2 linked regions of the Homo sapiens genome follow. The protein of the gene in region 1 purifies or fractionates together with the protein of each later gene. This does not show direct contact. Each region holds a gene or a part of one and is shown in the gene's direction. Other genes may lie near its edges.

Region 1 (5,358 bases):
TGGGCGTGGGAGGTGGCGAAGGTGGCTGGTGGGGCATGTATGTCTTCCCTGCTCAACATCCCTGCTCACCTCACAGGAGTCTCATCTCCAGAAAGGGTTAGATGTAGCCAGAGGGACTCACTTTGGTGTTAGGCAGGGCACGGTTGTGGGCAAAAGGAGGTGGCTGGGGCTGCTTGGGAGAGGAGCCTGGTAGAGTCCTAAGGGGATCCAGGGGGACACAGGGCTCAAGCTGGGCGTGTGTGGGTGGGCTCAAGCTGGGTTTGTCTGGGGGGGCTGAGGGCCTAGGAGAGAGGGTTTGGGGTGTGCAGCAGCCAGAAGGAAGAAGCCGGGTAGTCTCGGGAGGGCAAGGAATGGAGAAGCATCAGGCTGGCTGGGGATGGGGAGGCCTGGAGCTGAGATCTGCCTTGAGAGGCAGGCACTGGCAGCTGCTGAGGCAGGGAAGGCACTGGATGGGCTCCCTACTTGGCTCCCAGCTTCTCCAGGGTGAGGAATGTACCAGAACTCTGTCTTCGGGGTTCTCCTGAGGGAGCCACATCCAGCACCCTGAGAGGCTCCAGGTAGCACCTTCAGGGAACTGGGGCCACGGTGACCCTTTTCCATCCACCAGGCTCCATTGTCATGGGCAGACCTTTCTGCCTTTCTTTGAACCTCCAGGCTGGAGTTGCTTGTATGAGGTTGAACGCACAGGGGACCATCTGTCCCTCCATTCCTGCCTTCACTAGTACAAGCCTCCAGTGGGCCCTTAGTGCCAGGGCCTTGCCCAGCCCTGAGGTATTAAAGATGACGCAGGTATTATCTGGATGCGGTGGCTCATACCTGTAATCCCAGCACTTCAGGAGGCTGAGGTGGGTGGATCACTTGAGGTCAGGAATTCGAGACCAGCCTGGCAGACATGGCAAAACCCTGTCTCTACCAAAAAATAGAAAAATTAGACTGTAGTCCCAGCTACTCAGAAGGCTGAGGCAGGAGAATCGCTTAAACCCGGGAGGCAGAGGTTGTAGTGAGCCAAGATCATGCCACTGCACTCCAGCCTGGGTGACAAGAGTCAGACTCTGTCAAAATCAAAATTTACAGGTAGAGTTCCAACTTCAAGGAACTTAGAGGCTGGGGCAGAGCCCTGAGGAAGCAGGGGGCCACACCAGGCCATGACAGGATAAACCCGAGGCAGTGGGCGCGCAGAGGGGACGGCCAACCCACCCTGAGGGTCAGAAAAGCCCCCCAGGCCCAGAAGGACCAGGAATTTATCAACGGTGAACACTGAGGAGGTCAGAGGAGGGTGCTGGAGCTGTGGATTAAGGGTGCGCAAAGGTGTGGAGGTGGGACCCGGCTTCAAAGCCAAGGGAAAGTCCGGGCGGGCTGTGAGGAGGACCTGGTGGAAGACCGTCCGCGGAAGCCGAGCGCGCCAGGCCGGGGGCTGCAGACCCGTGAAGGGCCGCTTAGCGCTAATGTTAGGCTCTGTGTGCCTCGCAATCTGTGGCCACCATGCAGCTCTGTCCTTAGGGCAAAAGCAGCCATAGAGAAGCATCACGGAGCTGGCAAGGCTGCGTTCCAACAACACGGTGTTAATGGAAGCTGAAGTGTGAATTTCATGTCATTTTCATGTGTCACAAAATATTTTTCATTTCATTTTTCTTTCTGCCATTCCAAAAAGTAAGAACCAGCTGGGCACGGTGGCTCATGTCTGTAATCCCAGCACTTTGGGAGGCCAAGGTGGGAAGATCCCTTGAGCCCAGGAGTTTGAGATCAGCCTGGGCAAAATAGTGAGACCCCTGTCTCTATTTTTTTGAAAAAGAAATTGTTTAAGATAAGGGTAAGAGCCATGCTTAGCTCACATCCCACACAGAGCCAGGCGTCGGGCCTGATCTGGCCCCCGGGCTGCAGTTGCCAACCCCTGGGCTGGCCCTTGCTGGGCTGTGAAGGCCACCGTAGGCCACATGCAGCCAAGAACAGGGAGGGTGTGGGTCAGATCCAGCCCTGGAAGAGCCCTTGGGAGGGAAGAGATGACAGAAGGGCTGTGAGTTCACAGTGAGGCCACTCACCAGGGACCGTGACCAGGCCCGGCTGCAGCAGCCGGATGGGCGGGCTCAGGAAGAGGAGGCCAAGGACGGCCAAGAGAGGGGTGGGAGCAGGTGAGGACTGAGTGACCGTCCCGTCCAACAGGTGGACAAGACTGAAGACAAGTCCCTGGAGGAGCGGGGCCGCATCCTCATCTCCCTCAAGTACAGCTCACAGAAGCAAGGCCTGCTGGTAGGCATCGTGCGGTGCGCCCACCTGGCCGCCATGGACGCCAACGGCTACTCGGACCCCTACGTGAAAACGTGAGTGTGCCGTGCGCGTGACCACCTGCCACGTCTTCACCTCCAAGGACGGGGGTCCGTGTGCCGGCTCCGTGGTCCCAGGTGGCAGGCACCCAGGGAGTGCCTGAGGTACAGGGGCGCTGTGTTCCCTGATGGGCTACCTTGGCAACTCCAGGGGTTAAGCATGGCCAGCCCATTTCACAGATGGGGAAACTGAGGGACAGAGAAGCTGAGTGGCTTCCCAGGGTCATGCAGGTATTAGTTATCACCTGATGCTATGTCCAGGCCTCTCTGTGACTGAGGGGCCCAGGAGGGGCCATGAGTTGCAGGAGGGGACAGAAGGCGGGGCCAGTGCCGGGGGTAGCCAGGAGGCTGGGGGAGGATGCAGAGGAACTCTGCCAGGCCTTTGCAACTGCCCACATTTGCCCAGCCCTATAATGGTGCTACAGATGCGGATAAGAGTCCACCCAGCTCTACCAACAGGGCTGATGGTGGGCCTGGGGAGAGACACTAACTCAGGGGGCCATGCCAGGTGGCCTGGGCCGCAGAGCTGTGGAGCTGTGAGCCTGGTCAGGAGAGGCTGTGTAGCTCTGAGAGCCAGGCAGGAGCTGGCGACCCTTTGGAGAGGGTGCTACAGGTGCCACAGTGACTACCGTCAGTGCTCGGGGCTCTTCAGAAACTAGGTAGGTATGAGTGTGAGCTCACAGGGAGACTCTGGAAAACTGAGACTTGGGGAGGAATTTAGTTCAGCAGAAAGGAGGGGCAGGTGCTTCAGGGAGGGGGAATGACAGAGGGATGGCCCTGACCTAGGGGACACCAAGGACCCAGGTGACTAAGGCCTCAGGGACATCTTGGCACCATGAAGAGGCCAGTACTCCTCGTGGCACAGCTCTAGGGGCACCATTCCCATGGCCATGATCATATTTCTGTCACTTTAAAAATTGTATGTGGCAGGTGCAGTGAGTTACACTTACATTCTGAACACTTTGGGAGGCCAAGGCAGGAGGATTGCTTGAGGCTAGGAGTTTGAGACCATCCTGGGCAACATAGTGAGACCTCCATCTCTATAAAAAAATTAAAAATTAGCCTGGTGTAGTGGCATGTCCCTGTAGTCCTAACTACTTGAGAGGATTGCTTGAACCCAGGAATTTGAGACCAGCCTTGGCAACATACTGAGACCTTGTCTCTACAGTTAAAAATAGTAATAAATTAGGCTGAGTGCAGTGGCTCGTGCTTGTAATCCCAGTACTTTGGGAGGCCGAGGCGCACGGATCACCTGAGGTCAGGAGTTTGAGACCAGCTTGGCCAATATGGGGAAACCCGTCTCTACTAAAAATAAAAAAATTAGCTGGGTGTGGTGGCGGGCGCCTGTAATCGCAGCTACTTGGGAGGCTGAGGCAGGAAAATCACTTCAACCTGGGAGGTGGAGATTGCAGTGAGCCGAGATCACACCACTGCACTCCAGCCAGGGTGACAGAGCGAGACACTCTCAAAATATAATAAACAAATAAAAATAATATGAGAATAATGGGATGGCCACTTTGGGAAGCAGCTGATAGTTCCTCAGAAAGTTAAACACAGAATCACCATTTGATCTGGCAATTCCACTCCTTGTTATATACCCAAGAGATAAGAAAAACATGTCCATCCTAAAACTTGTGCAGGAATGTTCATAGCAGCACTATCCACAACAGCCAAAAGTGGAAACACCCCAAGTGTCCATCCACTGATGAATGGATACACAAATGAAGTCTGTCCCTGCAGTGGAATATCAGCCCTAAGAAGGAGTGTAGCAGGTGCGTGGAATATCAGTCATAAGAAGGAGTGTAGCAGGTGCGTGGAATATCAGCCCTAAGAAGGAGTGTAGCAGGTGCGTGGAATATCAGCCCTAAGAAGGAGTGTAGCAGGTGCGTGGAATATCAGCCCTAAGAAGGAGTGTAGCAGGTGCGTGGAATATCAGCCCTAAGAAGGAGTGTAGCGGGTGCGTGGAATATCAGCCCTAAGAAGGAGTGTAGCGGGTGTGTGGAATATCAGCCCTAAGAAGGAGTGTAGCAGGTGCGTGGAATATCAGCCATAAGAAGGAGTGTAGCAGGTGCGTGGAATATCAGCCCTAAGAAGGAGTGTAGCAGGTGCATGCTACACTGTGGGAGGACCTTGGAAACAAGATGCTAAGCGAGAGAAGCCAGACACAGACGGCCACGTGTTGCAGGACTCTATTTCTATGACGTGTCCAGAATAGGTCAACCCACAGAGGCAGAGAGTAGATTTGTGGTTGCAGGAGCCAGGGGAAGCTTGAGGGGACATGGGCAGTGTGTAGAATGTGGTACTATGAAGTTAAAAATGAATAAATTTGAACTAGAGGAATTATTATAACACGGACAGCTGTCGAAAACACAACAAACGACACACACAGTAGGATACTGGTTTGCGTATATATATGTTTTTTCTTCTGATTTGTCATTGACTTGAATTTCACGCGTATATATCCTTGCAGGAGGATATGCAATCTGAAGCCAAAATGGTGTGATTTTTTTTTTTTTGAGACAGAGTCTTACTCTGTTGCCCAGGCTGGAGTGCAGTGGCGTGATCTCAGCTCACTGCAACGTCTGCCTCCCAGGTTCAAGCAGTTCTCATCCCTCAGCTTCCCAAGTAGCTGGGATTACAGGCATGCGCCACCACGCCAGGCTAATTTTTGTATTTTTAGTAGACGGGGTTTCACCATGTTGGCCAGGCTGGTCTTGAACTCCTGACCTCAAGTGATCCACCCACCCTGGCCTCCCAAAGGGCTGGGATTACAGGCGTGAGCCACTGTGCCCGGCCTATGGTGTGACATTTTTAAACCAGTTTCAATGCCCACCTGCCAGATGGACAGGAATTCCAGGGTCACCTGCTGGGTTGCCCAGAAAGCAGAGTCTTACCTGCTGTGACAGATGGTCTGGTCAACTTCCACAGGCAGGCGGGGGGCCATCTGGGCAGGGCCTGTCCACTGTACCACAAGCTCCTCCCTGCCACAGGTGGCTGCTGTGGGTGCTGCTGGACCCCTGCAGCTGGGTCCCACCTG
Region 2 (4,510 bases), on another chromosome or scaffold:
TCTTATCAAGAGTATTTGGATTGTGATTTACAGACAAATGGTCTATCAAGTATTACGTTGGATGACAGCATTATTTCTGCCTGTAGTTTTAAAGTACTTGATAAGGAAGATGAAATATTTTGGTATGTTGAAGAGGAACCAATTGATGACCCTCTTGATTTATCTTTAGCTTTGCCAAGAAGTGAGGAACCATTGTATCTAAATTTAGAAACCTTTTCACAAGTACTTAAAGAGTCAAGTTGTGACCAAAGCGATCAGCCACTAGATTTTTCAGGCTATAATCGTCAAAAGTTTAAAGGAGACTTTAGATCTTTCAAAGAAAGGCCGTGTGGTTCTGAAGACGCTGAATGTACATTAGATCTCAGAAATCAGCCCCAAACTATTAGTAATCATGTCTCAAGCAGAGATCAAATTATAGAGAGAGATAAAAACCAGCCTCTAGCTGAAGATTCATCAGTTCACCTTTCCAGTTTCCATTGGCTTCAGTCTTCTGTTGAAGAAGTTACCACTTTGGTTCATCCTGAAAATATGACTAAAGGCTCACAACAAGCAGAAGAGACATCATTAGTGAACAAAGTGGCTTCAGTATTTTCTGTTTTGGGTGCCTCAGTTGGTAGTACTTTGAAGTTTGATAAGAGTGAATCCTTAGAGGCTTTGGCCATGCAGAAAGTGAATCAGCAGTCAGATTTAGCAGAGCTCACAAATGATGGCTTTCAGTCATTAATCATGAGTAAGCAATTAGAGGGTAACTCCCCAAATGTGGAAAAAAGTCTTCTTAAGGATTCAGAAAGACAGATAGTATCCAATGTTCAGCATCCAGAATTGATCAAAAATATAAGGCAAGAATTCTCTTTAAATAAAAACAACCATGTGAAAAAGCAAAGTTTGTTAAAATCTGGTTTCCAGGTAAGCCAAACAACTCCTCAGGCTAAATCAGGTGTAAAAGATGATGAAATCATTACAACAGACTCTATTTCAGTTTCTCCTGCACCTCAGCATAGTGGGGATGAGCGTGAGAATTATGAGCTTCCCCAGGGCCAGTCATCCAAAGAGTCTGATAAAACATTATTTAAAAGTTCATTGAAACTCTTCAGTCAAGAAGAATCGTCAGTTAGTATGACAGCAAATGAAAAACAGTCATCTGGATTTTTGAATCTTTTTAAGACTCAGGTGAATAAAGAAGGATCACCAAACTTAGAAAAGATTGGTGATACAAATGTCAAGATACCACCTCAAGAAAAGAAAGAATCTTCTGGTGTTTCAAATTTTTGGGGTACCCTTGGGGATTTCTTTAAAGCCAATGTATCTCCTATACAGACAACTGAAAATACGTCTGTTTCTTCAATGACTATTAAGGATGAGGTCAGGTCAAGTCCTACTCCTATGGAGCTAGCTAGCCAGGGTGCTGGGAACTTTCCTGCTGCACCAATTTCCTCTAAAGGGAAGGCTAGAGTTAGAAGACTGAACAAACAGACTACTATCGATGACAGTAGGTTAGAGGAATCAACTAGAGGGATCCAGGGTAATGATTTGACTGAAAAAGAGGTACCATTCAGAGACCATCTAATCCAGCAGTCACCTAATTCATCTTTTTCAACAAGTAGTCTCAAAGAGTCTTCCAGGGAGTCTTCAGTAGAAACTAGTGGTGTGACTACAGTGACAGAAGTTTCAAAAAGTAATGAAATATCCTTTGATACCCTGAGCAAGAGAAATTCAAATGAACAAGATCATTTTTCTGACAAAGACTGGAGTTTCTCTATGGCTGCAACATCTTCATCTCAACCAGAGTTATCAACCAAAAAGAGTATATTTTCTTTTCTCACTGGATCTGAAAAATCTGAGAACAGAGCCTCTGCTACTCTACCAAGAGCCAAATCTCAGGCAGAAGGGCTATTCACACTTCCTTCATTTTTTTCCACTGCTAGCTCAAGCATTAAGAAGGATGCCTCTCATAGTAGTTCTACTTTTAGTTTCTTCAGCTTGTCCTTTTTGGATCAAAAAAAGGAGACCTCTGGGGAAAAACAAAGCATTTCAACTGTTGTTCCAGTGACCTCCCAGCCCTGTAAGAAGACAAATGTTTTTGTAGAGAGTGGTAGCACAATGACCAGAGAAAGTTCCAGTGGTCATAGAGATAGCATAGCCCAAGAAGTAGTTCATGAACAGCAAATGGCACCTTGTATTTCCATTAACAACACCATTGAGGTTACCTCCCTTGCAGATGAGCTCAGTGTAGACAAGGACTGTCAGGAAAAACTGAGTTCCAATATTGTACCAGGGACATCAGTGGATTTCCAGATGAATGAATTGCAAAAAGACATTATTCCTCCTTCACCAGAATTTCAGGCACAGGCTGAAACATTCCTCACTGGCCCAGAGAACCTTGGGATAGCTCCCCATGAAGAAGAGGCTTTCAACCACAAAGCCTTCCCCAGTGACTCACTGTCCAACTCTTTTTCACATGCTAAACAGTTAATTGAAAAATTCAATGATTTAGACACTTGTACTAACTGCCACCAAAATGAGAAATTTACTACTGACCCAGTGAACTTGCCATTAGAAAAGGCCCCCGATGAGGTCTTACCACAGATCCTAGAGCCAGCCTCTTCCTCTCCAGAGCCAGGGTGTGCAGGGAACCTTCAGAACCAAGATGCAGATAAAGAGGAAGACAAATTTGCATTAGGCTCTTCAGTAGACATGCTTTCAGGGTTTGTGACCAAAGTGAAATCTTTCTCTGGGAGCTTAATTGAACCTCCCAAAACACTCTCTGGACTTTTCTCCTCTCCTAAATCTCCAAAGAAAAACTCCTTTTTCTCTCTTGCTTCTGATGTATCATCTCAGCCCCTCAAAGGTGAATTATTTGGAATTTTCAAAAGTCCCAAGCCAGAGCCATACAAACAAGAATCATCTCTCCCAGCTACTTCATGGCTTCAAAATGGTTGTTCCAGAGATGCTGTAGGATCAGTACCTCCAGAAAGGAGAGAAGCTGCCTTTACAGCACTAAGTTCAGAATCTACTCTCAGTGACTGTAGAATGACTGTGGTTAGTGCAAAGCCAGAATCAGATATCTTGACAGATGATCCTAAACTAACAACCAAAATGGAAGACAATAATACTCCTGAAAATATTCTGGAACCTCAACGTTCTGAAACAATTAATACATCTTCTTTCTCGGGTGATGATACTGGGCAAGGAGTATTGTCTCTGAGTGATGAAGGAGACATGGGGATATTGCAAGCTACAGACACGGAGGCATCGTTAGAAGCAGAGAACTTTGCGCTGCCAGCACAGTTGCATCCAGATCCTACCTGCATTGCCGAAGAGCTTCCTCCTCCCATTCAGCCACCTCTTCCTCTTGAGCCAGAGCCAGCTATTCAAACTGCCTCCACAAACCAAGACTTACTGGAGCTGCATCCAGCCAGTTCACTAGAAACTGATACTATGCTGTTCAATGATGCAAGTGTGAGCCAGAGCACCACTCTGGAAACCGAAGGGCACTTTTCTCATCCTCTGCTGGAGGACCCTGTGCTTGCTGCCAGAGAAAGTTGTGAGATAATTCATGCCCAGAAAGATCCACCTGTAGTACCCCAGGAAACAGAGCAGTCAAGACCACGTTTTGAGATCCCAAATGTGACCACTTGGCCAAAGCTTCGTTTGCCATCCTCTGCTACTAACCATGGGAAACCACTGAGCTCTTTCTTTTCCTCACCTCTCCCCTCTGGCAATAGAGCAGCAGAGACTGGTTTAATGTCCAGTTTTAAGAAGTTGTCAACTCTATTTGAGGGAAGTAGTGAGGGGAAAGGGAGTGTATTAGCAAGTGATTCAAAACTAGGATTTGGAAAGGTAGATCTTTCATTTCCATGGCCAAAAGAGAACAAAGGGGTCCCTGAACAAATGCCTACAGAATCCTCCCCTCCAGTTTTAGTTACTAGCAGTGATCAGGACCTTAACTCCAGTGAGGCTAACAAAGCTTTGAAGTCTTCTCAAATATCTGGGGCCAGTGCTCAGCCAGGTAAAGTCTACACTCAGCCCTCTGGGACCTCTGAGCAGCTGGTGGCCAGTCCAGAGGTCTGTGCTCAGGGGCTTTCAGGGTCTGGAGAAGGGGGAAACCAGCAGGAAATCTCAGCATCTGGAGAACACTGGGATACCAAAGCCAACCTGTCTAGCCCCGCCTGTCCTTCAGGGAAACATGAGGAAGAACCCTCCACTGTCTCTGAGATATTTCACCAGCTAGAAAAACAAGAAGAGGAGGCAGTACCTGCCAGTACTGACTCTGATTTGAATGTACAGCAGCCAGTCACTCTGAATGACATCAAGGAGCCCATGACCAACAAAAGGCCTGTTCTTAACTCAAGCATCATAAATGGCTTTAAGGAATTGACCATTTATGATGCAAGTGACTTAGTGGTAGATTAATCATAGCTTGCTTTTTATCCTTCTTGTGTCTTTCCTAGTACCCGAGCTTCATGTTAATTAGGGGTTAAATAACAAGAACTCAGTGTGTGGGTATTTT

The links. The genes of interacting proteins can lie anywhere in the genome.
Region 2: the proteins of DOC2B (region 1) and UNC13B purify together in Homo sapiens (affinity purification with mass spectrometry; one large-scale study listed by BioGRID and IntAct). This does not show direct contact.

The regions. Positions count from the first base shown.
Region 1 is NC_000017.11:153,180-158,537, reverse strand, and holds part of DOC2B (double C2-like domain-containing protein beta), read left to right. Parts: intron 1-2,160; coding exon 2,161-2,318; intron 2,319-5,358. UniProt on the Homo sapiens protein: Calcium sensor which positively regulates SNARE-dependent fusion of vesicles with membranes. Binds phospholipids in a calcium-dependent manner and may act at the priming stage of fusion by modifying membrane curvature to stimulate fusion.
Region 2 is NC_000009.12:35,304,079-35,308,588, forward strand, and holds part of UNC13B (protein unc-13 homolog B), read left to right. Parts: coding exon 1-4,334; intron 4,335-4,510. UniProt on the Homo sapiens protein: Plays a role in vesicle maturation during exocytosis as a target of the diacylglycerol second messenger pathway.